Linked DNA regions of Homo sapiens: all the other regions are linked to region 1. The links come from fine-mapping of genetic effects on gene expression. A gene starts in region 1. Each other region holds a variant in brackets. All regions are shown on one strand. Distances are between the middles of the regions.

Evidence for each region. PIP is the estimated chance that this variant, and not a neighbour inherited with it, causes the effect.
Region 2: its variant is fine-mapped to the expression of MILR1 in whole blood (INTERVAL, PIP 0.90).
Region 3: its variant is fine-mapped to the expression of MILR1 in whole blood (INTERVAL, PIP above 0.99).
Region 4: its variant is fine-mapped to the expression of MILR1 in esophagus muscle (GTEx, PIP above 0.99).
Region 5: its variant is fine-mapped to the expression of MILR1 in whole blood (INTERVAL, PIP above 0.99). The same link has a PIP of 0.9 or more in subcutaneous fat.
Region 6: its variant is fine-mapped to the expression of MILR1 in whole blood (INTERVAL, PIP 0.97).
Region 7: its variant is fine-mapped to the expression of MILR1 in whole blood (INTERVAL, PIP above 0.99).

Annotation. Positions count from the first base shown.
Region 1 is chr17:64,446,846-64,450,923 of GRCh38, forward strand. MILR1 (mast cell immunoglobulin like receptor 1) reads left to right here and starts at 2,270. Exons shown (of 10, transcript NM_001085423.2): 1 at 2,270-2,378; 2 at 2,469-2,510. The coding sequence starts at 2,324. RefSeq lists a silencer at 2,133-2,182.
Region 2 is chr17:64,358,602-64,362,679 of GRCh38, forward strand. It overlaps PECAM1 (platelet and endothelial cell adhesion molecule 1), which reads right to left. Exons shown (of 16, transcript NM_000442.5): 7 at 1,539-1,814. Among named protein-coding and RNA genes, the nearest start is that of PECAM1, 30 kb to the right of the region's middle. The variant ATGTG/A (reference allele first, on the strand shown) is at 2,213.
Region 3 is chr17:64,470,285-64,474,362 of GRCh38, forward strand. It overlaps a transcript of MILR1 not described here. Among named protein-coding and RNA genes, the nearest start is that of MILR1, 23 kb to the left of the region's middle. RefSeq lists an enhancer at 2,906-3,406. The variant G/A (reference allele first, on the strand shown) is at 2,452.
Region 4 is chr17:64,417,079-64,421,156 of GRCh38, forward strand. No RefSeq gene overlaps it. Among named protein-coding and RNA genes, the nearest start is that of PECAM1, 28 kb to the left of the region's middle. The variant G/A (reference allele first, on the strand shown) is at 1,960.
Region 5 is chr17:64,571,423-64,575,500 of GRCh38, forward strand. It overlaps SMURF2 (SMAD specific E3 ubiquitin protein ligase 2), which reads right to left. Exons shown (of 19, transcript NM_022739.4): 10 at 376-534. Among named protein-coding and RNA genes, the nearest start is that of CEP95, 66 kb to the left of the region's middle. The variant A/C (reference allele first, on the strand shown) is at 2,199.
Region 6 is chr17:65,055,197-65,059,196 of GRCh38, forward strand. GNA13 (G protein subunit alpha 13) reads right to left here and starts at 1,544. Exons shown (of 4, transcript NM_006572.6): 1 at 1,115-1,544. The coding sequence starts at 1,397. RefSeq lists silencers at 782-1,041, 1,322-1,831. The variant G/GGAGGGC (reference allele first, on the strand shown) is at 1,603.
Region 7 is chr17:64,546,633-64,550,710 of GRCh38, forward strand. It overlaps SMURF2 (SMAD specific E3 ubiquitin protein ligase 2), which reads right to left. Exons shown (of 19, transcript NM_022739.4): 17 at 968-1,169. Among named protein-coding and RNA genes, the nearest start is that of CEP95, 42 kb to the left of the region's middle. The variant C/T (reference allele first, on the strand shown) is at 2,186.

The sequences.
Region 1 (4,078 bases):
CCACAACTTCGGGAGGCCGAGGCAGGCAGATCACCTGAGGTCAGGAGTTCGAGACCAGCCTGGCCAATGGGGTGAAATCCCGTCTCTACTAAAAATACACAATTTAGCCAGGTGTGGTGGCACGTACCTGTAATCCCAGTTACTTGGGAGGGTGAGGCAGGAGAATCCCTTGAACCCAGGAGGTGGAGGTTTCAGTGAGCCGAGATAGCGCCACTGCACTCCAGCCTGGGCAACAGAGCGAGACTCCATCTCAAAAAAAAAAAAAAAAAAAGAGAGAGAAAGAAAATGTGGGTGCGGGGAATGATTCTATGGTTGTCTGTTCTTTTCCAGCTGGCCAGCAGTGGTAGCCAAAAAGTGACAGGATGCTGATGAAAAACATTGCAGACGTGAAGAAAAGAAAAAGTTGATGGAATTTTGCACATGTATCTGACAGTTCACCCATCCAAACTTTTATAAAGTGCTGTAAAGTTGTTGTAGTAAGGGTGGGGCATGGTGGTTCATGCTTGTAATCCTAGCACTTTTGGAGGCCACACGCAGGAGAATCGCTTGAGCCCAGGAGTTCAAAACCAGCCTGGGCAATATAGTGAGACTTCATCTCTATAAAAAAGTTAAAAACCTAGTAGTGTATGGTGGTTTGTGCCTGTGGTCCCAGCTACTAGAGAGGCTGAGGTGGAAAGATAGTTTGATTCTGGTAAGTGGAGATTGCAGTGAGCCAAGATGGTGCCACTGTGCTCTAGCTTGGGAGACAGAGCAAGATTCAGTATCAAACCTCCTAGCTAGAGGATGCTAGCTAGGTGACGCTGAGTCAATAAGGAAGGATTTGGTTACATCTTGGGACCTAAGGTACAGAGATGAATGTCCCAGCTCAAGGCTGCCCCAGCCATTCAACTCCTTGCTTCCTCTCTTGGTGGACCTGTCAATTCTTGCAAGTGTCAACCAGCTGTCTTGCCCACCTAGCCCTATAGTCATACCTTTCTATCCTTTTGGTGATCTCCACTCCATCAAGAAGTGGCTCTGCACATTCTATTTCAACTGACTTTTTTTTTTTTTTTTTGAGACAGAGTTTTGCTCTATCACCCAGGCTGGAGTGCAGTGGTGCAATCTTGGCTCACTGCAACCTCCACCTCCCGGGTTCAAACGATTCTTCTGCCTCAGCCCCTCAAGTAGCTGGAATTATAGGCACGCATCACCACACCCAGTTAAGTTTTTTGTATTTTTACTAGTGATGGGATTTCGCTGTGTTGGCCAGGCTGGTGTCAAACTCCTGACCTCGGGTGATCCGCCTGCCTCAGCCTTCCGAAGTGCTAGGATTACAGGCATGAGCCACCGCACCCAGCCTGCACGTTCTATTTCAAAGGCTGATCTAAGGTAACTCCTACTTCAGATCTCCTGGCACTGGAGGGCTTGCCGTAATATCAAGTCCCCAAGGCTCCCTTGATTCAGAAATCACTGAGGCAGCAGCACCTTGTACAGATATTTCTCAGCCTTCACTGTGCGTAAGAATTGCTCAGGGCCCTTGTTTAAAAAAAAAAAAATCAGCGTCCTGGACTTGAAACCCAGTAAGTCTGGAGTGGGGTCTAGGAATCAACGTTTAACAAAAGCAGGCATTTTTGGCCAGGCACAGTAGCTCACACCTGTAATCCCAGCACTTTGGGAGGCTGAGGCGGGAGGATCACTTGAGCTCAGGAGTTTAACACCAGCCTGGGCAACTAGACCCCTGTCTTTACAAATAAAAATAATTAGCCAGTCCTGATGGTGCACACCTGTGGTCCCAGCTACTCAGGAGCCTGAGGTGGGACGAGCACTTGAGCCCAGGAGTTTGAGGCTGCAATGAGCTATGATCACAGCACTCCACTCCAACCTGGGTGACAGAGTGAGGCCAGTCTCAAAAAAAAAAAGCAGGCATTTTTGATACAATATTTGTATGTATCTGCTTAAGACAGTCGGTTTGCTTCCAAAGACTAAATCAAACTTCCACCAAACTCCTTTTGGCATAGACTGAGTCCAGAGCAAGGAGATCAGATGGGTTTACATAGACAATGTAACAGTCAGATTTACCTCTTCTCTTTCCCAGCCAGCATGGGACGATGTGGGGGTGTGGGGGGGTGGGGGGGGCGGGGGAGTGGCAATCTACCAAATATCTCTCTTCTTACAGGAACTCACAGAGGAAGACAGATTGGTCGAACAAACCAGTATTATGCAAACCTCATCCAAACCCTCTGATTTCCTTAACTTGGCTAAGAAAAAGAGGAAGTTCTCCGAGTTACTCACCACTGTGGTTCTACTATGCCTTCTGACCCCGTCTTGGACTTCAACTGGGAGAATGTGGAGCCATTTGAACAGGCTCCTCTTCTGGAGCATATTTTCTTCTGTCACTTGTAAGCCCCCCTTATCATTCTGAGGCTCGAACCTCCAAGCCAACGTGTCATGTGGAAAGTGAGCTTTATCGTGTTCCTTTTCTGTTTCAGGTAGAAAAGCTGTATTGGATTGTGAGGCAATGAAAACAAATGGTAAGTTTCATTTACTTCTTTCTTATTGAAACCATTTTCACTGAAGTGGTGAGACAGTCTGATTGCAACATAAGCGTCCATTCAAAAGTGTTTCTGAGCTTTTATGAACAACCAAAGAACAGTCTTTTCAATTATCTATCATTTAAAATAAAATGATTTTAGGGAGGGGATTGCAGCATTTTTTTCTGAGACTCAGTGAGAAAAATAATGAAATTTGTTTTCACAATGAAAGTTTTCTAACTTTCCTTGTTATTGTTGTTTTATGGTTGTTGTGTTTTAACTAGAAAGCCAACACACAGGCTGGGTGTGGTGCCTCCGGCCTGTAATCGCAGCACTTTGGAAGGCTAATGGGGTAGGATTGCTTGAGCTCAGGAGTTTGAGACCAGCCTGAACAACATAGTGATACCTCGTTTCTTAAAAAAATAAAACAAAATAAAAAAACCCACAGAATTATTGTGAAATAATTCAAGCAACACTAGAAATATACATTGGGAAGTGGTCTAACCTCTGGTTCTACTAGTTACTAGCCAGCAGCCTGAGCTCATGACATACCCAGTTTGACCTTAATTTCTTTCTTTCTTTCTTTCTTTCTTTTTTTTTTTGAGATGGAGTCTCAGTCTGTCGCCCAGGCTGGAGTCAGTGGTGCAATCTCGGCTCACTGCAACCTCTGCCTCCCAGGTTCAAGTGATTCTCCTGCCTCAGCCTCCCGAGTAGCTGGGACTACAGGCGTGTGCCACCAAGCCTGGCTAATGTTTTGTATTTTTTGTAGAGACGGGGTTTCACATCGTTAGCCAGGATGGTCTCGATCTCCTGACCTCGTGATCCGCCCACCTTGGCCTCCCAAAGTGCTGGGATTACAGGCGTGAGACACTGTAATTTATTTCATCTGTGAAGTGGGCTAATAAAAGCACCTACCTGGTAGGCTAGTGTGCAGATCAAATGAGACAATCCCTGCTCCTCGTCACAGTGCCAGGCATATGGTAAACCATCCGTAAGTGATAGCCAAGGTGGTGGTTGTTACTGTATAAAATGTAAAAGTTCTGTTACAATCCTCCTCCAATTCTTCTCCCCTTCCTATCCAGAAGCAGCCGTTATCAACAGTCACTTTATATTCGTTATCTTTTTTTGTTTGTTTGTTTTTGAGACAGAGTTTCACTCTTGTTGCCCAGGCTGGAGTACAGTGGCACAATCTCGGCTCACTGCAACCTCCGCCTCCTGGGTTCAAGGGATCCTCCTGCCTCAGCCTCCCGAGTAGCTGGGATTACAGGCACGTGCCACCATGCCTGGGTAATTTTTGTATTGTTTTTTGGTAGAGACGGGGTGTCATCATGTTGGCCAGGCTGTTCTTGAACTCTTGACCTCGTGATCCTCCTGCCTCTGCCTCCCAAAGTGCTGGGGTTACAGGCATGAGCTACCACACCAGCCTTAGCTCCTCTTTTTCAACAGCTGCATGGTATTTTAAGACTCAGCCATGATTCGTTTAACCATCCTTATTTATTGCCCTGCTTTTTGGGGGCAATATAAACAATGCTACAATAAACATCCTTGTACACAACGTCCTTTGTGGA
Region 2 (4,078 bases), 88 kb before region 1:
CACTGTAAGGATATAGTTCACGTGACAACCAAACATGACCCCTAACATTTTTTCTATGCTTATTGGTATTATGATTCAGATGTTTCTCCATCATTTAATTAGGAGAGCTTGTGTTTCTTACCACAGCATTGAAACAAAGAATATGTCTTCTTTTTTGTATGCCTCACACCATTAGGTGCTTAGTCTATGTTAATGTTAATTTTTTTTTTTTTTGAGATGGAGTCTTGCTCCGTTGCCCAGGCTGGAGTGTAGCGGAATGATATTGGCTCACTGCAGCCTCTGCCTCCCAGGTTCAAATGATTCTTGTGCCTCAGCCTCCCGAGTAGCTGGCATTAAAGGTGCCCACCACCACACCCAGCTAATTTTTTGTATTTTTATTAGAGACAGGATTTCACCATGTTGGCCAGGCTGGTCTCGAATTCCTGACCTCAGGTGATCCGCCCACCTCAGCTTCCCAAAGCGCTAGGATTACAGGTGTGAGCTACCTCAACCAGCCTATGTTAATGTTAATTGAAAAGGTATGGCTACTATTAGACTATACATGAATAGAAGCAGGAATCCCTCTCTCCTATTCACATCCACCAGCAGCCCATGTAGATAGGCAGTTACTAAACAAGAAGGACAAAGAGGAGGAAGCCTTATTAAACTTTTTACAACAGGATGCAAAATATCTAAGACATGCAAGCAATGGCACTCCTGAGGCCTTCTGAGAGGCATGAGATAGAGGCTTAAGGGAAACTGTCCACCCCCAAGACAATGGTATATTTCTCTTGAGTATGATGAGAATCCCAGGCAAATGTTAGTAACTGCCATGAGACCACAGCCTGTAGCTCTCACTGCTGCAGAATTCACACAAGGCAGGGTTGCCCGGCTAGGAGTCACAACAGCAGAGTCCTGATCTACAATTCTCAGAACAGTGTATCTGAAAAGGAGAAAGTGCTAAGGGAGCCCATATGCACAACTTCAGTGCTTCCTGCAGTCAGGACACTTTCATGCTTATCATATTTTAGCAGTTTGTTGAAAGGTTCTGGAAAGAGATTACATTGTCCTCATCAATAGCCCCCAAATATTTTCCAGCCTCCTTTACTGAACCTTGGCCCTGCTTTGGTGCATATCTAGTATATGGACTTTGCATAAGCACCCACTACTTCTCTCGCTTTTTTTTTTTTTAGATGGAGTTTCGCTCTTGTTGCTCAGGCTGGAGTGCAATGGCGCAACTTGGCTCAGTGCAACCTCTGCTTCCTGGGTTCAAGCAATTCTCCTGCCTCAGCCTCCCGAGTGGCTGGGATTATAGGCGCACGCCACCATGCCCAGCTAATTTTTGTATTTTTAGTAGAGATGGGGTTTCACCATGTTGGCCAGGCTGGTCTTGAACTCCTGGCCTCAATGATTCACCGGCCTTGGCCTCCTAAAGTGCTGGGATTACAGGCATGAGCCACCGCACCTGGCCCCCTACTTCTCTTATTGTTCCCACAGTCCCTGGGCGTGAAAGAATGCCCCAAGCCCACATGATTTCTTCTCACAGCACAGCAACTTACCTATCACCTTCACCCTCAGAACCTCACTTAACATTTTGGCATGGGAATGGCAATTATCTGCAACACACTGGTATTCGACGTCTTCAGTGGGGTTGTCTTTGAATACCGCAGGATCATTTGAGTTCTTGGTACTATTCTCCAAAACTTTACTTGTTTTTAAAAGTTGGTAAGAAATAGGCAAAGTTCCACTGATCGATTCGCAACGGACTTCGATGGTCTGTCCTTTTATGACCTCAAACTGGGCATCATAAGAAATCCTGGGCTGGGAGAGCATTTCTAGAACAGAGGGAGAAACAATCCAAAAGGCACTGAAGGTAAAAGCAAAGCATCCAGCACAAGAGGTTCCTCCTCCAAAGCCTGAGCTTTGCTTTCTATCCCTGCTGTAATTTCAAATGCCTGCCTGCCTTATTTACCTTTATAGGACACCTATGAGACTGACAGGCTGTGTGTGTGTGTGTGTGTGTGTGTGTGTGTGTGTGGTGAGAAGGGAAAGGGAAAGAGAAGTACAATAAGCAAAACAGAGAATGACAGAAATTCAAGGAAAACATTACATCCCCAGAAATACATGTTCATATTTTACCATATCTCACACGCACATGCACACATAATATACTTTTCTTGTGTTGAGCAAAGACACAGAAAACATAGAAAAAGTACAACAAGTAGCCAACAAA[ATGTG/A]TGTGTGTGTGTGTGTGTGTGTGTGTGTATTTGAGACAGGGTCTCACTCTATTACCCAGGCTGGAGTGCACTGGTGCGATGACAGCTCACTACAACCTCCCAGAATCAAGCAATCCTCCTACCTCAGCCTCCCGAGTAGCTGGGACTATAGGTGCACACCACACCTGGCTAATTCTTTATTTTTTGTAGAGACAGGGTCTCACTATGTGCTCAGGCTGGTCTTGAACTCCTGGACTCAAGTGATCCTCCCACATCAGCTGCCCAAAGTGCTGGGATTATAAGTATGAGCCACCACACCTGGCTGAGCATATATGTGTGTGTGTGTGTGTGTGTGTGTGTGTGTTCTGAGACCGAGTCTTGCTCTGTCACCCAGGCTGGAGTGCAATGGCGCAATCTCAGCTGACCACAACCTCCACCTCCTGGGTCCAAGGGATTCTCCTGCCTCAGCCTCCCGAGTAGCTGGGATTACAGGCATGTGCCACCACACCCGGCTAACTTTTGTATTTTTAGTAGAGAGGGGGTTTCACCATGTTGGCCAGGCTGGCCTCAAACTCCTGACCTCAGGTGATCCACCCACCTTGGCCTGCCAAATTGTTGGGATTACAGGTGTGAGCCACCAGGTCCAGCCAATATATATGTTTTTAAATTATTCTCAGCCAGTCACGGTGGCTCATGCCTGTAATCCCAGCACTTTGGGAGGCCGAGGTGGGCAGATCACCTGAGGTCAGGACTTTAAGACCAGCCTGACCAATGTAGAGAAACCCCGTCTCTACTGAAAATACAAAATTAGCTGGGCAAGGTGGCACATGCCTGTAATCCTAGCTACTCGGGAGGCTGAGGCAGGAGAATCGCTTGAACCCGGGAGGCAGAGGTTGCAGTGAGCCGAGATCATGTCATTGCACTCCAGCCTGGGTAACAAGAGCAAAACTCCATCTCAAAAAAAAAAAAAAAAAAAAAAGATAAAAAAAGTCTTCTTAGTGCTTCAGCCTCTTAACAGATAAGAATTATATTAGGTCATTATTTAGGCATTAGTTTATTTAAACCTTATACAATGAGATTTCCTCCTCCCAAGAACAAAAAATAAAATAAAACGTTATAACACACATTTGTCTCTTGCATTCCTGCCTTTTGAGTTAGGTGGTTAGAGCATTAAAAATAGGCTAAAATCCTGGTTCAGTTGAAGCTATAATAAAATCTTAGCTGGATAAAACACAGCCACAGGTTAAATGAAAGGATCGTGACTGAATAATATAGTGACAGTGACAACTTGACTGGAGTTCTATAATCAACCAGAATCTCGCCACCCAAAGTGTGGTCCAGAGACCAACAGCATCCACATCACCAAAATGCTAGTTAGAGATGCAGAACCTGGCCCCATCTGGGCCTAAAATACTGAATCATAACCTGTATTTTAACCAGGTCTTGCATGCACATTCAGGCCTGAGAAGCCCAGCTCCTGGTGGTCAAATACCTACATTCTGTCCACTGGAAGTCTTACCCTTTTGGGTTAGCCAGGATACAGATTTAAAAAATGGAATTTTGATATTCTTGGCCGGGTGTGGTGGCTCAGGCCTGTAATCCCAGGACTTTGGGAGGCTGAGGCAGGCAGATCACGAGGTCAGGAGATGGAGACCATCCTGGCTAACACGGTGAAACCCCATCTCTACTAAAAATACAAAAAAATATTATCCGGGCGTGGTTGCGGGTGCCTGTAGTCCCAGCTACTTGGGAGGCTGAGGCAGGAGAATGGCGTGAACCCAGGAGGCGGAGCTTGCAGTGAGCCCAGATTGTGCCACTGCACTCCAGCCTGGGTGACAGAGCGAGACTGCATCTCAAAAAAATAAATAAATAAATAAATAAAA
Region 3 (4,078 bases), 23 kb after region 1:
GGTTTCACCATGTTGGCCAGGCTGGTCTCAAACTCCTGACCTCAAATGATTGGCCTGCCTTGGCCTCCCAAAGTGCTGGGATTACAGGCATGAGCTATTGCGCCCGGCAATATGAATGAATGTTTTTAATACCATTGAATTACACACCTAAAATTGGTTAAAATGGTAAAAAATTTTATGTTATGTATAACTTACCACAATAATTTAAAAAATATTGTGAAGCGCCTGCCTCATGTGAGGTCTTCTAATAAGAGGGGCTGTTCTCCTTCTCAAGAGCGCTCGCGGGCATTGGGAGTTTCTTATTCTCAAATGTCCACATCCCAAGGCCTACCCCGTCCCTGTCAGTGTCAGAAGTTAGCAGAGCAGAACTGCTAGATGTGCTCACTCCATCTCCTCCATGGTTGGCCCACCCTTTCGATCAGATCCTGGAATTGGCTTTCAGCACAGCCTTCCAGCTGGCTGTGATAAATGAGAGTGGCTTAAACCCTGTCATCAGGGTTTCACAGCTTGCCCTGAACCGTAGCCTCTCATTTTCTCCTTGCAAATCTTCTAAGGCAGCTAAGAGAAGCCAATTAACTTCACAATCCACATAATTAGCATTGCCCCAAACCTTTCAAGTGCTGGAATGCTGGCGTCCACTAGTGCCTCATTTCTTTCTAAACCTCATTCCACATGGCAGGGGAAGGTCTTAGGAATTGTGGAGCTGTGGCGTTCTAAGGGTTCTCACTGCCTACCTATCACCAGCAAGGGAGTCCTTGTTGCCATCCATCCCTAGGGGGTAATTTTGTTCCCTGAGGCTGCTTTCTAGGGACTTCTGGTCGCTTGTTTTATCCTGGACCAGACCTGAAAGCAGAGCCTGAAATAAGGCCTTCTATGCACATCATTTATGTAGGAGGTGGCCCTAGGAAGCAGGCCCAATGCGCCATGGGAAAAACCAGTACCAGGGTGTTTTGCTGAGTTGAGCACTGTGGTGGGCAGCTGGACATGAGCCCACTGGAATCTTCTGAAGAGCCCAAGAGCCTCTTCTCAGTATTGTCCACTTGAGGATTGATAGTGAGAGGCATTTATCCACTGGTGTCCAACGCTCACTGGTTGAGGATCACCCCAGAAAGCGACACCTCCCCCACTTCTAGACTAGCATGTGGGTATTCCAAGCAGGCTTACCTCAGTGTCTCACCCCAGGCACTGCAAACACCCCAGGACAGAAAGTGAACATGTGTATTGTGCAATTGAAGCAAGACACTATCAGTGCAAAGTGAGTAGACCCTCAGATGCTGCTGGGTCAGAGGGAAGGCCCAGGGATATGACACAGGACACAGAGGTGGCAGATACACCACCTCCCAACATTTCCTCTATCACAGCAACTAGAACAATGGCAACAATAGGGGTGGGTGTGGTGGCTCACGCCTATAATCCCAATACCCTGGGAGGCCAAGGCAGAAGGATTGCTTGAGCCCAGGAGTTCAAGACTAGCCTGGGCAACTTGGCGAAACCCTGTCTCTACAAACATATTTGTATGTGATTGAACAAGTAGAACAATGGAACGGAAAGTCCAGATGTAGTTCTAAATATGTACAGGAACTTAGTATAGGATAAATATGGCATCTTAAATCAATGGGGAAAAGATGGATTATTCAACATATTGTAAAAACTTGAGAATCACATTAAAAAAGTTGGACTCCTACCTCATTCTTTACAACAAAATTAATTCTGATAGATGTAGTCACAGAAGAGCTAGAAGAATATGCAGGGGATTTAAAAATAATCTTGAAGTGGGGAGGACTTTTATAGGTATGACTCACAACCCAGAAAACATAAAGGATTGTTAAATTTAATTAGATAAATCATTTAATTAGATGAAACATTTAAAAATTACATTTAGAAATCATAAACTAAATCCAAAGAATAACTAGGGGCCGGGCGCAGTGGCTCACGTCTGTAATCCCATGGGGCAGGTGGATCACCTGAGGTTGGGAGTTTGAGACCAGCCTGTCCAACACGGTGAAACCCCGTCTCTACTAAAAATACAAAAATTAGTTGGTGTGGTGGCACATACCTGTAGTCCCTGCTACTGGGGAGGCTGAGGCATGAGAATTGCTTGAACCTGGGAGGTGGAGGTTGCAGTGAGCCAAGATCGCGCCACTGCATTCCAGCCTGGGCGACAGAGCAAGACTCCATCTCAAAAAAAAAAAAAAAAAAAAAAAAAAAAAAAAGAATAACTAGGGAGAAAACACCATGATGTGTTGCATAATAACATTTCAGTCATTCATGGACCAAATATAAAATGGGGTCCCAAAAAACTATAATACCGTGTTTTTACTGTACCTTTTCTATGTTTAGACACATTTAGATACACAAATACTTACCATTGTGCTACAATTGCCTAGTGTTCAGTAGCATGCTGTACAGGTTTATCCCTAGGAAGAATAGACTATCCCACACACCCTAGGC[G/A]TGTAGCAGGCTATGCCATCTAGGTTTGTGTGAGTACACTCTATGCTGTTCAAACAGTGACCTCCACTGTTAGGTGAAGCATGACTGTATTTTGAGCCCAGGTCTCAGATATTGTATGAAGTTTCATAATATTATGAGCTTTTACAAATCATTAAGAGAAAGACCAATAATCCAGTAGAAAACTGGGAAAAGGTGGCATCTGCAGGGTAACACCAGGGCAGCACAGAAATCTTGCTGGGATGAGGAGCTGCAAACATGTGTGGTCGACTTTTTGGCCTTCTGCCTCTTCTACTCTCAGGGATGGGGGATTACAACTAAAGAAGTTGTCTTTTGGCCGGGCGTGGTGGCTCACGCCTGTAATCCCAGCACTTTGGGAGGCCGAGGCGGGTGGATCACAAGGTCAGGAGATCAAGACCATCCTGGCTAACACGATGAAACCCCGTCTCTACTAAAAAATTCAAAAACATTGGCCGGGCGAGGTGGCGGGCACCTGTAGTCCCAGCTACTCGGGAGGCTGAGGCAGAAGAATTGTGTGAACCCGGGAGGCGGAGCTTGCAGTGAGCCCAGATCGCGCCACTGCACTCCAGCCTGGGCGACAGAGGAAGGCTCCGTCTCAAAAAAAAAAAAAAAAGAAGAAGTTATCTTTTCTCAGTGTTGCTTCTCCCTAAGGATTTAAAGGGGAGACCTGGCCAGAGGAATCATCAACAGTGGATTTGTGATGACTGGAGTTCATTTCCTTCTTTCTCAACTGTCCTGGAAGGAAATGGACTAGTGCCTTACCTCTGACTCTTCCGCAGCACACACCCACCACCAGAGACAGTAACTGAGATCTGCAGTAGCACAGAAACTTACAGGTTAGAAAAATTAGACACCTAAGGATTTCATGACTCCAGACCTGTTTCCTTAGCATAATACCACACCAGTAGGAGAAATACAACTTACGAAATTTCTTTGTAAATAAATTCTATAACATTTTGGGTAAAAATTTATCATAAAAAAATTATTAAAAGCAATTGGGTTGGAAGGAAGTTCTGTCAAAATACAATCCAGGTGTGCAGTTCTCTGATAAATTTAGCAGTGGTTACTACTGAGGCAGTCTCAAAAAAAAGTGTAAAAGGACTTTAAGGGGTGATGAAAATTTTCTACATTGCCTTTGTGGAGATGGTTATACATTTGTCAATACTCATCAATTTGTACATTTAAAAGAGGTAAATTTATTGTATGTAAATTGTATCTTAATAAAACTGATTAAAACAGACATACAAACCCCAGACCCTCTGCAGTCCTGAATTTGAGTGGAAAATATTGGTGTGAACTCATAATTTATTTTTCATTTGTTATTATTATTATTATTTTGGAGATGGAGTCTCACCCTGTTGCCCAGGCTGGAGTGCAGTGGCATGATCTTGGCTCACTGCAATCTCTGCCTCCCAGGTCCAAGCAATTCTCCTGCTTCAAACTCCCAAGTAGCTGGGATTACAGGCGCCTGCCACCATGCCCAGTTAATTTTTGTATTTGTAGAAGAAACGGGGTTTCACCGTGTTGGCCAGGCTGATCTTGAACTCTTGACCTCAAATGATCCACCCACCTCAGTCTCCCAAAGTGCTGGGATTACAGGCGTGAGCCA
Region 4 (4,078 bases), 30 kb before region 1:
CTGTGGAATTTTTTTCTGAATATTTTCTATCCACGGTTGGTTGAATCCATGAATCTGGAACCCATGGATATGGACAGCTATATCTGCAAAGGGGCTCTTTTTTTTGAATGAGGAAGACTCAATGACATTCCACTCTATTCCTTCCACTTCCATGGTGCCATTCCGGTACTAGAGGATTTCACAAAAACTGCCCCATACAGTGGAGGCTTCAGCCACTGTAAACTTATAAGCCCAAGAATCCCATTACTTAGCTCATCAATGATATGACCACGGCAATCTGGGCATTTCAAGAAGGAAGGAGATGCATTCTCTCTCTCTCTCTCTTTTTTTTTTGAGACAGACAGAGTCTTGCTCTGTCACCCAGGCTGGAGTGCAGTGGTGTGATCTCAGCTCACTGCAACCTCCACCTCCTGGGTTCAAGCAATTTTCTTCCTCAGCCTGCTGAGTAGCTGGGATTACAGGCACCTGCCACCATGCCCAGCTTACTTTTGTATTTTTAGTAGAGATGGGGTTTTACCATGTTGGCCAGGATGGTCTCGAACTCCTGACCTCAAGTGATCCACCCGCCTTGGCCTCCCAAAGTGCTGGGATTACAGGAATTAGTCACTGCGCCCGGCAGGGATGGAGTTTTATCAATTTAGCAAGGTTGTCCCTTATCTACTGGGGACTTTAATTAATCAAATATACATATAAATACAAATAGAAAAATCATTGACTACTTAGTTAATGCTATTTTGGATAAAATATTCCCAATAATGAGATTTATAAAATACAAATAATGAAGGGGCCAGGAGTGTTGGCTCATGCCTATAATCACAACACTTTGGGAGGCAGAGGCAGGAGGATCACATGAGTCCAGGAGTTTGAGACTGGCCTGGGCAGCATAGTGAGACTCCATCACTAAAACAAACAAACAACAAAACAAAACAAAACAAAACAATTAGCTGGGCTTGGTGGTGCATGCCTGTAGTCCCAGCTATTAGGGAGGCTGAGTTGGGAGGATGAGGCCCTGGAGTTCAAGGCTGTAGTGAGCCATGGTTGTGCCACTGCACTCCAGCCTGGGCAACAGAGCGAGACCCTGCCTCAAAACATAAAATAAATAAATACATAATAAAAATAATGGGGGGTTTTTGATGGTGAAAAGGTAGGACTGCCAGCCTGCTCAGAATTATGGAACATTTTAAAGTAGCCAAAAACATTTTTCTCTGTGATAATCAAGGTATCAGGTATGCATTTCTGCAGGACTAAAAGAAACTCTACATACATTTGATGGTATTTTTCATGTAAGGACTAAATTCTTTTAACGAGCACCTCATTTGGTTTACCCTCTATAGGCTTGAAGCAGGAGGGTATTTCTGAAGGGAACTTCAACTTGTTTCTTGTCTGTTTGTTTTGTTTGTTTGTTTGTTTGAGACAGAGTCTTGCTCTGTAGCCCAGGCTGGAGTGCAGTGGTGTGATCTCGGCTCACTGTACTCACTGTAACCTTCATCTCCCAGGCTCAGGTAATCCTCCCACCTCAGCCTCCTGAGTAGATGAGACTACAGGTGTGCGCCACCACACCTGGCTAATTTTTTGTATTTCTTGCAGAGACGAGGTCTCACTATATTGCTCAGGCTAGTCTTGAATTCCTGGGCTCACGCGATCCTTCCTCACTGGCCTCCCAAAGTGCTGGGATTACAGGAGTGAGCCGCTGTGCCTGGCCTCAGCTTTTTTTTCTTTAATTTCAAGTGACTCAAAAGAAAAACAAGCGAAAATAAAAATAAAGTGTTAAGGCATAAACAATTAATGGGCAGTCTTTCCTCCCTAGCGCTTTTGAAATTACAGACACTTGACAATGACGCCATCTAGTGGAAGATTAGCAGGTCAGACGAAAACCCATCTATTTGTAATTTATCAGCCGCAGCTTCTCCTAAACGCTTTTTTTTTTTTTTTTTGAGACAGAGCAACCTCCACCTCGTG[G/A]GTTCAAGTGATTCTCGTGCCTCAGCCTCCCAAGTACCTGGGATTACAGGGGTGCACCACCATGCCTAGCTAACTTTTTGTATTTTTAGTAGAGACGGGGTTTTACCATGTTGCCCAAGCTGGTCTCAAACTCCTGGCCTCAAGTCGATCCACCCGCCTCAGCTTCCCAAGGTGCTGGGATTACAGGCGAGAGCCACTGCACCTGGCCACCCCCAACACCTTTAAAATAGCTTTGGACGCTCCCAGTGCTTATTTCACTTTTACATTGTTATTTCTAATACAGACATACTATTGATATTAAAAAGTACATAAAATATGTAATGCAGAAATAGTACATTGAAAATATATAAAGTAGGCCAGGCATGGTGTCTCATGCCTGGAATCCCAGCACTCTGGGAGGCCAAGGAGGGAGGATCGCTTGAGTTCAGGAGACCAGCCTGGGCAACACGGCAAGACCTCGTCTCCACAAATAAAAAAAATTAGCCAGGTGTGATGATGAAGTATGCCTTTAGTCCCAGCTACTGGGGAGGCTGAGGCAGGAGGATCACCTGAGCCATGGAGGTCGAGGCTACAGTGCTCACCGCAAGTTTTTTGCCCCCAAAAAACTTGCGTTTCAGCCCAAACACCATTCCCATTGAGTAGCAAGCAACTTTGAGCAAATATCTCAGCTTCTCCCTCTGTAAATTCCAACAGTAAGGCTCTTCTAGCACTATGTACAAACAAGTATTTTCAGCCTTCCTACAAAGAGACAGACTACCTTTATAGTTACAGTTTCCTTTTTATTTATTTATTTATTTTTGACAGGGTCTTGTTCTGTTGCCCAGGCTGCAGTGCAGTGGTGTGACCACGCCTCACTACAGCCTTGAGCTCCGGGGCTCAAGCACTCCTCCTGCCTCAGCCTCCCCAGTAGCTGGGACCACAGGCATGCCCCACCATATCTGACTAGTTTTTAAATTATTTGTAGAGATGAGGACTTGCCATGTTGACCAGGCTGGGTTTTTTCATGTGTGAAACAGAACACGTCACAGGGTCATTATGAGAATGGAGTCAGCTGGCCCATCTAATGAACTGACCTTTAACCAGGAGGTACTCAGTAAGTGCTAGATTCTTCTCTTTGGAACTTGAAAGACCAGAGGAGAGCCCAGCAAACTCAGAGAAGCAGGAAAGACCATTCATAGGATGTTGTTCCTGGGTGCTGATGCCCCACAATTGGGGCTAGTCCACTCCTGGGATGGCCAGCAAAACTCACTTATTCAGAGCTGTGGACTGACAGAGCAAGAATCAGGAGAAATAGATGGGTTTCGTCTGACCTGCTAACCTTCCACTAGATGGCGTCATTGTCAAGTGTCTGTAATTTCAAAAGCTCTAGGGAGGAAACTGACTGCCCATTAACTGTTTATGCCTTAACACTTTATTTTTATTTTCGCTTGTTTTTCTTTTGAGTCACTTGAAATTAAATTTAAAAAGTTGAGGCCAGGCGCAGTGGCTCACTCCTGTAATCCCAGCACTTTGGGAGGCTAGTGTGGAAGGATCACGTGAGCCCAGGAATTCAAGACCAGCCTGAGCAATACAGTGACACCTTGACTCTACAATAAATACAAAAAATTAGCCAGGTGTGGTGGTGCGCACCTGTAGGCTCATCTACTCAGGAGGCTGAGGTGGGAGGATCACCTCAGCCTGGGAGATGGAGGTTACAGTGAGCCAAGATCACACCACTGCACTCCAGCCTGGGCTACAGAGCAAGACCCTGTCTCAAACAAACAAGCAAACAAGCAAAACAAACAAACAAGAAACAAGTTCACTCAGGTCAGCTGATGTAGTCTTCCCAGAATCCTCAGCACCCCCTTCCCTGAAGGGGGTCTGGAGGTCCACTGGCATCACTTTGGGACCTAGGGAGTGCAGCATTCTCCCAGGCGGCAGCCCAGGCCATTCCGGATACAAGACAGCAAGACAGAGTCACCAGAGCCCTTACTTGTCCCCTGTCCCTACAAGGAAACCCAAAGCCTTCCTTCCTTCCTTGTGCTCAGCCTGTGGTAAACACCCAGATTTTCTGGAATCGTCTTCTCTCCACTAACAAAATCTTGACAAATCATCTCTTAGGATAGGTCACTTCTGCTGG
Region 5 (4,078 bases), 120 kb after region 1:
GAGACAGGGTCTCCATCTGTCACCCAGGCTGGAGTTGGGGTGGTGTGATCATAGTCCACTGCAGCCTCAAACTCCTGGGCTCAGGCGATTCTCCTGCCTCAGTTTCCCAAGTAGCTAGGACTGCAGGCATACACCACCACACCCAGCTAATTTTTTAATTTAAACAACTTTTTTTTTGTAGAGATGAGGTCTCACTATATTGACCAGGCTAGTCTCAAACCCCTGGCCTCAAGTGATCCTGCTGCCACGGCCTCCCAAAGCACTGGGATTAAAGGCGTGAGCCACTGTATCGAGACTCACATTTATTATTAAAAGCATCTATGCGTTTCATCATGTTTAACTCCCATTTTAACATGTATTGTTTCAAAAACTTACTTTAAAACTAAATGCAAGTTAGCAGACAGCCGAGGATCTGTAAATTGTGTTGTTCTGTTGTTATGGTCAACGAAATAAACTCTGCCTGTTGCCGTATTACGGATCTCCCATCCAGGAGGCAATGGACCAAGCTCTTCACAATTGATGTTGCTAAGATCCCTGCAAAAACAAATATAAAATAAAAAATACCTCATTGCTCGCCCTGCTGAACCAAGCAAGTGTAAATGACACAGAACAATTCCACAAAGTGTGAGAAAATGTATTGTTTCAGAAACTTGAGATGTTCAGCTGGAATCTTTAATTCCCAATGGTTTAACAAACTTTCATCTTCAAAGCCCAATCCATAAATGGCTCAGAAAAACTTATCACATAGCCTACATTTTTTAGTAATTTCCTAGGCTTTAATGTAATACAGATTTAAATTAATATAAAATCAATCCCAATATTTGCCAACATAAACTGTATTTCAACACGTGTTTGACAGGAAGTAATTTTACAAGTGTCAGTGACATAAAGAATTAAATGCTTTCTAAAATGTCCCTTCATTTCTTTACTATACCATAAAATTTGCATAAAATGTCCATTCCATAATTTTAAGCTCGCCAACAAAGCAAAACTGGAAATGTTACTGAAATTATGATCCTGAAAATAATCACAGCATATTTTTAAAGAATAAACTGCAATTCTAAAATCTGTAAAGTTAGTCAATGAAGAACCTGTTTAAGATACATTACCAAGAGTGCTCTAAGGGTTACCACTGCAATAAGAAAAGCTAAGATTTTTAATGGACCAAAGACTATTGCTATTATATTATACATTCTTAAAATACTAGTATATATAGAGAAGGATTAATAGGGCCTTAAAGAATGAGTTAAGGAGCTTCCAGGTTGGTGAACACACTGAGGTACTGGACGGTGGCCTGCCCAGAGAGGGCATGGTAGCTCCTTGCCCTCCCCCCATACTGTGTCCTAAGCATTGCTTCCATTTGGCTGTTCCAGAGTTGTAGCCTCTGTAATAAACTGGCAATAGAACTGCAAATTCTTATCCTCTACACTGTTAGAAAAAAATATTTCAGTGAAGCTTCCAAAGTGTGGAAATTGCTGTTGTCATCCACCAGAAGAGAAAAGTCACTGCCCTTGGTGACATAATTGAGACTGCGTGTAACAATGTATGATATGATCAGGTCATTTCCTGCCTTAAATGAATACTTTAGGTTACCAGAGCCATGTGTAAATACCAAAGAAACGACATACTCTGAAAGTGACCAAGCAAACTCAAGCATCTAGATAGTAAAACTGTTTTTGTGGTCCTCTTTTTATTAAAAAAAAGAGGAGGAGGAGGAGGAGGAGGAGGAGGAGGAGGAGGGGGAGGAGGAGGAGGGGGAGGAGGAGGAGGAGGAGGGGGAGGAGGAGGGGAGGAGGAGGGGAGGAGGAGGAGGGGAGGAGGAGGAGGAGGGGAGGAGGAGGAGGAGGAGGAGGGGGAGGAGGAGGAGGAGAAGATAAAAGCAGCATGTTTATGTAAATTTAAATTGTAACAGATAATTATAAGTAATCACAAATTTCATCAAAACCACATTTTAAAAGTTATACTAGAAAAATGTTTTTCCTGAGATGACTTCTCCTTAGTCACAGTGAAACCAATGATGGGCACACAGGGACCTATATTTGCCAAAGCAATCATTCTGACTTCTGCTATAGGTGTTCCAAGAGACTCCTGCTACAGAACAGCTAAAGTGTAGGAAAAAACACCATTTGAAACACTGCTAGTCTCAAAAGAGGCAAGGGAAAGTTCCAAGAATTCTCCTCAAATTTTAAAAAAAAGGG[A/C]GTTCGGGGGACTGAGTAAAGATGGTACCTGAGTGGCAGGTAGGCAGAAGGGCAGGCCAGCAGCAAGACTGGGATAGGAAACCTGAAGCTTCCTCCCCAAGCTGAGAACTCAGGGAGTTCAGCCTCCCAAATTCAGCCTCCCAAAGTGCTGGGATTATAGGCATGAGCCACTGCACCGGCCCCAAATAGATTTTTAATGGTTTAGAAATGAAAAACAGGAGCTGGAGGACATTATCCTTAGCAAACTAAAGCAGGAACAGAAAACCAAATATTGCATGTTCTCACTTATAAGTAGGAGCTAAATGATGGGAACACATGGACACATGGAGAGGAACAACAGGTACTATGGCCTATCAGAGGGTGGAAGGTGGAAGAAGGGAGAGGATCAGCAAAAATAACGAATGGGTACTAGGCTTAGTATCTGGGTGACAGAATCATCTGTACAACAAACCCTCATGACACAAGTTTACCTATAACAAACCTGCACATGTACCCCTGAACCTAAAAGTTAAAAAAAAAATTAAAATAAAAAATGAACAATTCTACTGATAAAATGTAGAATTTCATTTCATGTCATTTTATTTAGAATTTTATAAATCTACAGTCATACACGGGAGAGTGCTAAAGCACTGATTAAAAGAGCAAAACACTAGAAATAATCTTTATGTCTCACTGGGAGCTGGTTAAAGAAAAATGGAATGTTATACAGTCATACAAAGTAACACAGATCTGTATTTCAAGACTACAGTCACTCAGTATGCAATATAACAAATAACAAGGCATTAACCATTGTTTTAAAGAGAAATGCAAAACATGATGAAATGAGATTTCTTGGATAAATCTAGGTATCCTGGATATCTTTAAATAAAGTTTGTTTTAAAGAGTCTGACTTTGCAATTTTATAAATATCTTCGAATAGTGATATTGTAATAGAAACTAAATATTTATAGTATACTTTCATAAAAGATCTTCCATACAAAAGGCATATTTGCTAAAGGATCCTCCAAAACAAAAGATGTAAGTTTTTAAGGTAATTTGGGGGATACAGAATAAGAAAAATAATCCCAAGTGTTATTTCATAAAATCATCATTCAAAATACATGTCAATACTCAACATGAGATATTCTTAAAGCTTCGCAGAAATCCTTTACTCACTAATAAAAAACTGACATGTTTCCTCTGGAATAAGAGCCTGTTACCAACAGTGGTGCTGAAATCTGTCTCAATTTCAATTTCTGTTGCCAGCTTACATACTATTCTTTCAACATGTAACTCAAGGTCAACTTTCTCACTATTGTAAATCATTTAGTTAAAAAAAATGATCATTGTTATTCTATACATTTCCTACAAGTAATTTCTAATTAATTTAAAGAAAAGCTTATTATTGACCTTCAACTAGATAAACAGAATCCAAAAAGCTTTTTACAATTTATATAATAAAACTGATTTTGAAAAGTTAGGCCCTTGGATTTTTTTTTTCTTTTTTTAGTAAGCTTAAAAAAAAAAAAGTAAAATTTCCTCCCCACTACTTTTTATCTATTTATTTTTTTAGAGATGGGGTCTTGCTCTGTTGCCGAGGCTGGAGTGCCACGGTGCGATCTCGGCTCACCACAACCTCCACCTCCCAGGTTCAAGCAATTCTTCTTCTTCAGCCTCCTGAGTAGCTGGGATTACAGGCACATGCCACCATGCCTGGCTAATTTTGTATTTTTAGTAGAGACGGGTTTTCACCATGTTGGCCAGGCTGGTCTCAAATTCCTGACTTCAAGTGATCCTCCTGCCTCAGCCTCCCAAAGTGCTGGGATTACAGGTGTGAGCCACCGAGCCCGGCCCCCACTACTTTTTAAAAACTAACAGCTTATATTGTCAAGACATGGAAA
Region 6 (4,000 bases), 610 kb after region 1:
GTTACCAGGCGCTGCACCTAAATTTTGCCAAAATGCCTTTTCTATAGAACATACTTGACACGCAGAAACGAGTGTTAATTATCTTTCAAATGACAAAATAAAAACCATCTTTTCGATTTCTTTGAATGCCCAGAAATAAACAACTTGTTTATTTTTCACTTAAGAACAAAGTTTAATTTTAAAACTACTGTCAATAAAGAGCCGAGCCAATTATCTAACTCAACACTCATTCATTGTCTCCATCTGTACAGGATCCACATGACTTTTAGGCCAGTCTTCTTACTACTACATTTCATCTAAATAGAAGCAGTGGTACTCCCTTCCTGCCAGCCCCCAGTTACTTAGCGAAAAGGAGAGTGGAACGTGTTGCACAGAAATCACACGCAAACATCCTACCTGACCGTGACACTGGGGCGAAAAAGCACAGATGCTACATTTTCATGCTAACTGTATGGGTCCACTCTCTCCTGATTCCAGTACAGTCAACCTGACACTCCTCAAGTTTCATATTCTCGCCCAAAAGGAGGCTGTCACCCTACGCCCTTGACAAGAAGTCTCGGGCAAAAAGTTCCCTTATTGCGACGGTTCCAGAACTCGCTTGCTTAGGAGACGGCCAAGGAAGCAGGGAGTTGGGAGCGCATGCGACCCCATGTGACTCGGGTCACCCAGCCAGGGTAGCGAGGTTCGGCCCACATCGCCCGAGCAGGGGATGGGGGTGAAGCGGCTAGGGCTGCTATTGGTGTTCCTGCCTCATCCGCAGCGGGGAGGACAGGAGAGGTCTGCCCACACCCCGAGGCAGCACCCAGCTCGCCCCACTTCCCTCTCGCAGGGGGAGAGACCAGGACGCGGTGGGGGGTGGGGGAATGGCCGTGACGCCCACCGGGGAGACAAGCGGGAGAGCAGGGCGACCCCGAGCATCCTCTCGCCCTGGGGCGCGAGGGCACCCCGGGCGGGCAGGGCCAGTTGCCGGGGCGCGCCCCCTTCCCGCCAGCCCGCCCGCCGGGCCCGTTCCTTCGCCAGCGACACAGCGGACCAGGGCGGTGCCCCGCCCCGCACCCGCCGCCGCCCCAGCCCCCCTGCCCTTAACCCCCGGCCCCCATTCCCGGCCCGGCACCTTTGATCACGTTGCTGTAGATGGTGGGGCGGAACTCCTCGCGCGCGCGCTGGTCGAAGTCCTGCCCGTGGATGATCCGCATCTGCTTCAGGAAGGTGGACTTGCCGCTCTCGCCCGCGCCCAGCAGCAGGATCTTCACCAGCCGCTTCACATAGGTCTTTTCCCGAGACAGGCATTTGTCGATCTCCTTGGACTTGCGTTGCTGCTCGGCCTCGCCACTCGTCAGCAGGCAGCCGGGGAAGCACACGGACAGCACGGACCGCGACGGCAGGAAGTCCGCCATCTTGCCGCCGCCGCCGCCGCCTCGGCGGGCCCCTCCGGCTCCCTCCACCTCCTCCTCCGGCGGCGGGCGGCTCCGGCACCGAGGCTCGAGGGCGGGGAGCGCGGCGGCGGCCCGAGCGCGCCCAGGGAGGGAGGGAACCAGCGAACTGACTCGCAGGGCGGGCCGGGCAGGGCGGGCCAGGACAGCGGGGGAGGGAGGGAGGGAA[G/GGAGGGC]GAGGGCGGGCCCGGCCCCGGAGGGGCGGTGGCCCCGGAGCGTGCGCGCTCCCGCTGCCTCCCGGAGGCGCGCTCGCACGCCGCGGCCGCTTCTCCGCCTCCCGCCCTGGGCGGCGAGTCACGAGCTCGATGTGTCGCTCGGGTGCCCGCGCCCGCAGCCGCGGCCGGGCGCGCGGGGAGGGCTGAGGAACCGCGGTCACGTGGGCCAGGCTGGGGAGCCCGACTTTCTGTTTCCCTTTCATGGCCTGAGCCCACTTGTGGGCAGAAGGGCTCCTTCCCCAAGGCCGGGAGGCCGGAGACCAGGTCCCGGACGCGGTTCTTTGGGCTCCCACTTAGCCTCCCTTTCTCCCGCGTTGCGCGCCCGCTGCCCGCTGTCACCGCCCACCCGACCCATTTCGAGGCCACGGACTCGAAAGTTATTCGAACAGAACAGCCGGCGTGAGCCTGGCAGGCCTTTGGTGCATTTTCTTTATTTCATTTTATTTTTTCTCTTTTGAGACGGAGTCTCACCCTGTCGCCCAGGCTGGAGTGCATTGGCTCGATCTCGACTCACTGCAACCTCCGCCTCCCAGGTTCAAGCCATCCTTCCGCCTCAGCCTCCCGAGTAGCTGGGAGTACAGGCGTGTGCCATCATACCCGGCTAAATTTTTTGTATTTATTTTTAGATACAGGGGCTCCCCCCTATGTTGCCCAGGCTGGTCTCGAACTCCTGAGCTCAAGCGATCCTCTAGCCTCGGCCTCCCACAGTGCGGGGATTCCAGACAGAGCCACCAGGCCCAGGCCTGGTGTGTTTTCTTAAAGTGACTCCCTTGACCTTCTAGTCTCCGAATCCCAGAACGGTAACCAGACGTCGTCCACCCCCACTTCCAGCTCTTTCTGGCATTTTCAGACCCCTACCAGGGCTCTCTGTGAGGGGAAAGAACTGGAGTTGATGTTCACTTGAGACGTGCTACCAGGGGCATTTAATGGCTCACTCGTGCATTCCACCTGGGCTGTGATGTGACTTCAGGGACGCTTGGCCGCGCCGGAATTAGCGAGTGGCAGCAGGAGGGTGAGGTCATGGTGAAAATCCCCTACACCGGACACTGTGATGTAGGCTCTTCCCAACAAGGAAGCAGATACACAAACACAACGAGGAATGGGAGCACGCAAATTTTAGCTTTCCTGCCAGATTACAGAGGATATGACCCGTCCAGGGACTTTTTTTCTGTCCTAACAGCAGATTCAGGCCAGGACACCTGAAAGGAGGCCAGGAGACAAGCCACAAGTGACAGCTGTGGGTTGGCAGAGAAACTGCTTAACCGGGACCCCCGAGAGCCGACCTCTTCATTCTTAGTATTTAGTTTCAAGTGGAAAAAGCCACTTTGGTCTGTCCCTGTTTTGGGCAATGCAACGTAGCTTTGGGCTCCTGTGGCTCAGAAACTTCGTATGTATAAGGGAGCGGAGGTAAGAGGTCAGCATTCCAAGAAACTCCCGAACAGGTTTAAATTTTAAAATCGGTACTAATCAGTTACTCCCTGGGGTTGGGTTAATGACCGAGAAGCCTCGACTCAGTAGATTGGCTGCAGTAAACAATGCCTGTAGTAGGATTATCTCCTGTGGCTCTGGCAAGCCCAGAGGGTGGACAACCTACAATATACAAGTAGAGTAGGCTCACCTCCAATATCTGTGGATTGATAAGAGTCAGAATCACTGAGCAGTGCTGTCAGGCAAAATATATGGTAAAAGCCTGCCCTGGATGGAGAATTTTTCCATCATCTCATCTAGTGTTTGGGAGGCCCTGTTCTCTAACCATGCAAGGACTCGCCTCTCCCAGGATTGGGGCATAGAACCTGTCCCCGAGCACTGTTTCTGCATTGACCCCAGGTGCTAATCTGAACTCCAACAAAGAGGAGAGAAACTTGTAAGTTAGGTAGTTAACATCTTTTTTCAGAAGTGTGTGTAATATAATGGAAAACCAAGAATGCCTAGGAGGCAGGAAGGTATTCCTGCCCAGCCAGTTCATGTCGTGACATGCAGAGCAGCAGAGAAAGCTGTTTAAAGCCCTGCGTGTAAGCTTGCCTTGGAACAAACTTGGCTCACATCAAGTCTGGCTGTTCTAGTCAGTGTAGTTTTTAAAAAGAGACCTCTTTGACCTGAAAGTCAAATGAAGGAAGAAGAAGAAGAAGGAGGAAGGAGGAAGGAAGAAAGAAAGAAAAAGAAGGCCGGGCACAGTAGCTCATGCCTGTAATCCCAGCACTTTGGGAGGCTGATGCAGGCAGATGACTTGAGCCCAGGAGTTCGAGACCAGCCTGGCCAACATGGCGAAACTTCATCTCTACTAAAAATACAAAAATTAGTGGGGAGTGGTGGTGGGCGCTTGTAGTCCCAGCTACTCGGGAGGCTGAGGCAGGAGAAT
Region 7 (4,078 bases), 100 kb after region 1:
TGAGAAGAAAAGTAATCAGGCAAATCCAAGGTAAAATACATAGGCACACATTCAAAAAGATGACGACCTGATGCAAATTTAGATTTCATGACTCAAACTGGGCTGACAGCAAAAGAGCCGTCTATAGAATCCATTTCAGTTCGCACAGGCACCCCATATAAATACATGTAGCAGAAATACAACTTCACTTTATGCATCTGGGAAGTGTGAGGATGAGGAGCTCTCCTTACAGAGAAGGGCAGCACAGCTGAAAGCACGCTCTCCCCCCAGGGATTTCAGCGCATGCGCTGTGGGCAGCACTGTCGAATTATGTACCAGTGTCGCTTTGTGTGTCCTTATTCATCACCAGCAGCTTTGAAAATGAAGTGCTTAAGAGGTAAAGGAAGCAACTGCCACCCAGTGAAGCACCACAATCATTAGCAATATTACCAGCTCCTCCCAAAATTAACCAGCTTATTCCACAGAAAACCATTCTTAAAAAAGGAATATGGTTGTAAACAAATGGTCTGATGCCATGCAGTAATTAAAATGCTCTGACCGAACAGATGGTTTCCATGACCCATGCTGCTTCTGTCTAATAAGAGAAAGAACGAAAAGTAGAGGGGAGAGGCATCCCAGGCAGGTAAACGTTTCACCAGGTCAAGATGTGAACATGGAAGTGAACGACTTCCCTACAGGAATGTGCAACAGAATTAAAAGTAAGGTGACCAGAAAACAAAGGCAGAGCATCACCACGTACGGTCTCTAGCATGCGGCACTCACTACAATCAGAGAAGCCCGCAGAAAAGGCTCTTGGGAAGGGAACAAAAGAAAGGAGGGAGAAGAAGGTATCACAATGTGAGAGTCACAGATAAGAAGTGAAAAAGAGAATCTCTAAGCACATGGTTTACAAAATATCTCCACAGACCCCACGCTGACAGCCCCGCCCCCACCCGCTGCCCAGCTTGCCTGCACCTCAGGCTGTTACCTTGCAATGCTTTGAAGCCCTGCAGAGGCACTCGAGAGGATCCTGTCACAAACTGAAGCAATCTTGCTCGTCGCTCTTCATCAAAAAACTCCACAGCTTTCCAGAACCATTTGACAATGTTGCTGTCTGGTGTACAGTGTTTTAACCGGGTGTTTACCTTCCAGTCATTAACATCTATCTTTCCAAGTCCACAAATAATGAGCTGTGAAAATAGTACACAGTAATGAACCTGTGGAAACCACAGCCAGACCAAAAATTCCTCAAAAGAGAACTTTAGGTTTGTACTGCTGGCTGTCATTTGGTGGTTCCTAATTAAAGATGCACATCAGAATCATCTGAAAAGCTTTTCAAATTGACATTCCAGGTCCTAGGCTCAGAGATGTTAATTCTGTGCACCTGGGGTGACAGTTGGGATCTATATTTTAAAAAGCTCCAGAGATATCTACTCACTGCAAACTCCCTCTCCAGGGTCTGAGAACCACAGCTGTGATAGACTTGACCAGGTAAACAATTGAGAATGTTTCATAAGTTCATAATAAAATTATAAAGCTTTAAAAAAAATGGACAGAAATTGAGACCCAAAGAGTAAATACAGATATGTGCCTTCTTTGGACCTGCATCATCTACTAGTTTCAATACCTATTAGCTTTGTTGATTGAGGGCAATTCAATCAATTCCTCTGCTGTAATATGGTAGTAACATCCATTTCACTACATCCTGGGGAAGCAACCGATAATGCACAGAAACTTCAGAAATGGGTGTTGAATAAGTGAGTCATACAATTTGCTTAATAATTTTTTTTTTTTAAGACAGAATTTTGCTCTGTCTCCTAGGCTGGAGTGCAGTGGCATGATCTAGGCTCACTGCAACCTCTGCCTCCCGGGTTCAAGTGATTCTCCTGCCTTAGCCTCCCAAGTAGCTGGGATTACAGGCATGCACCACAATGCCCAGCTAATTTTTGTATTTTTAGTAGAGATGAGATTCCGCCATGTTGGCCAGGCTGGTCTCCAACTCCTGGCCTCAAGTGATCCGCCTGCCTCAGCCTCCCAAAGTGCTAGGATTATAGGTGTGAGCCACTACACCTGGCCTACATTTGCTTAATAATATTAAATTGATATTAAAGCACAAAATACATGAGCACATTGATACAGACCTCTGCTAAACACATCCTGATGGAGGGTCACACAGATGAACTATATCCAAATCATTTTATACTAT[C/T]ATTAATATGTCTCCCTAGGGTTCAAGACTAACTCACCATACTAATCTAACATGTTTGTTTATAGCAGTGAATTCCATGTATACTATAAAACATAACTTGCAAATCCTGTATTTTATAGAATTACACCCAGGATTAATATATACAATGCTAAAATAAATGTTATACATATTGTCTTTAAAAATTGGTAGGGTGTGGTAGCTCACGCCTGTAATCCTAGCACTTTGGGAGGACGAGGCATGCAGATCACTTGAGGTCAGGAGTTCAAGACCAGCCTGGCCAACATGGCGAAACCCTGTATCTACTAAAAATACAAAAAGGTAGCCGGGCGTGGTGGCGGGCACCTGTAATCCCAGGTAAGGCATGAGAATCGCTTGAACCCAGGAAGTAGAGGTTGTAGGGAGCTGAGATCCCATCAGCCTGGGGGACAAGTGAGACTGTGTCTCCAAAAAAAAAAAAAAAAAAAAAAAAAGCCAAAATAATGTTAGCCAGGCGTGGTGGTGCACACCTGTAGTACCAGTTACTGGGGAGACTGAGGTAGGAGGATCACTTCAGCATAAGAGTTAACAGTGAGCTAGGATCATGGTACTGCACTCCAGCCTAGGCAACAGAGTGAGACTCTATCTCAAAAAATAAAAATAAAAAGTTTAATGATTCAGGCCTGGTGCAGTGGCTCACGCCTGTAATCCTAACAATTTGGGAAGCAGAGGCAGGTGGATTGCCTGAGCTAAAAAGTTCAAGACCGGCCTGGGCAACATGGTGAAACCCCATCTCTACTAAAAATACAAAAATTAGCCAGGCATGGTGGTGCACACCTGAAGTCCCAGTTACTCAGGAGGCTGAGGCACGAGAATCGCTTGAAAACCTGGGAGGCAGAGGTTGCGGTAAGTGGAGATTGTGCCACTGTACTCCAGCCTGGGTGACAGAGTGAGATTCTGTCTCCACAAATAAAAAAAAGAAAAAAGAGAAGAAAAACAAAGTTTCATGACCCATTAGCAGTAGAAACTATATTAAAAATCCTAACCCTACCAAATAAAGTCTCCAGTAAGGCTTCTATGGGGTTCTGAAATAAAATCTCCAACAAAGCTTCTACAGGGTTCACTGAATTAACACCACACTGAACAGGGAGGAGGTTATCCGAAAAGGATTATGGGTGTATTTAATGACATAAAAGACACCTCCTAAATTCTTTTCTTCAGAGGAATGGCAGTTAGAAGGCCAAATCCTCGTTTATTGTATAAAGAGATGAAAATGCATTATATTTCAACCTTATCGGCATTCCTGCTATGTTCTCCTTCTAACTACTTCCTTCTGGCTATTTCACTATGAACAATTCAATCACAAAAGGAATGGGGAGAGTATTAAGTAAAACCAACCTTTTTAGATTTGTTTGCTAACAGGTCTATTAACAGATTTATTTAGAAAGGACATTGAAGGCATTGAATAAAATCATGTTTCAAATTATTAGTAGACTTCAAATATTTGTGTTATCCCTAACTACTAAATAAATTTGGGACCTTTAATAGAATTAAACCTCGTGTTTTTTAGTTGTTCAGTAGGAAATTCAGATGCATTTGTTTAAGGTCTTAATTACAAAACCTGGGGTGTTTAAGGGCCAGCTTTAAAAGGAAACAAAAAACTATTCACTGTTTAGTATGGCCGTTAATCTAAAGACATTTAGAGGCCAGGTGCGGTGGCTCACACCTGTAATCCCAGCACTGTGGAAGGCCGAGGTGGGTGGATTATTTGAGGTCAGGAGTCCCAGGCCAGCCTGGCCAACATGGTGAAACCCCGTTTCTACTAAAAATACAAAAATTAGCTGGACGTGGTGGCAGGTGCCTGTAGTCCCAGCTACTTGGGAGGCTGAGGCAGGAGAATCACTTGAATCCAGGAGG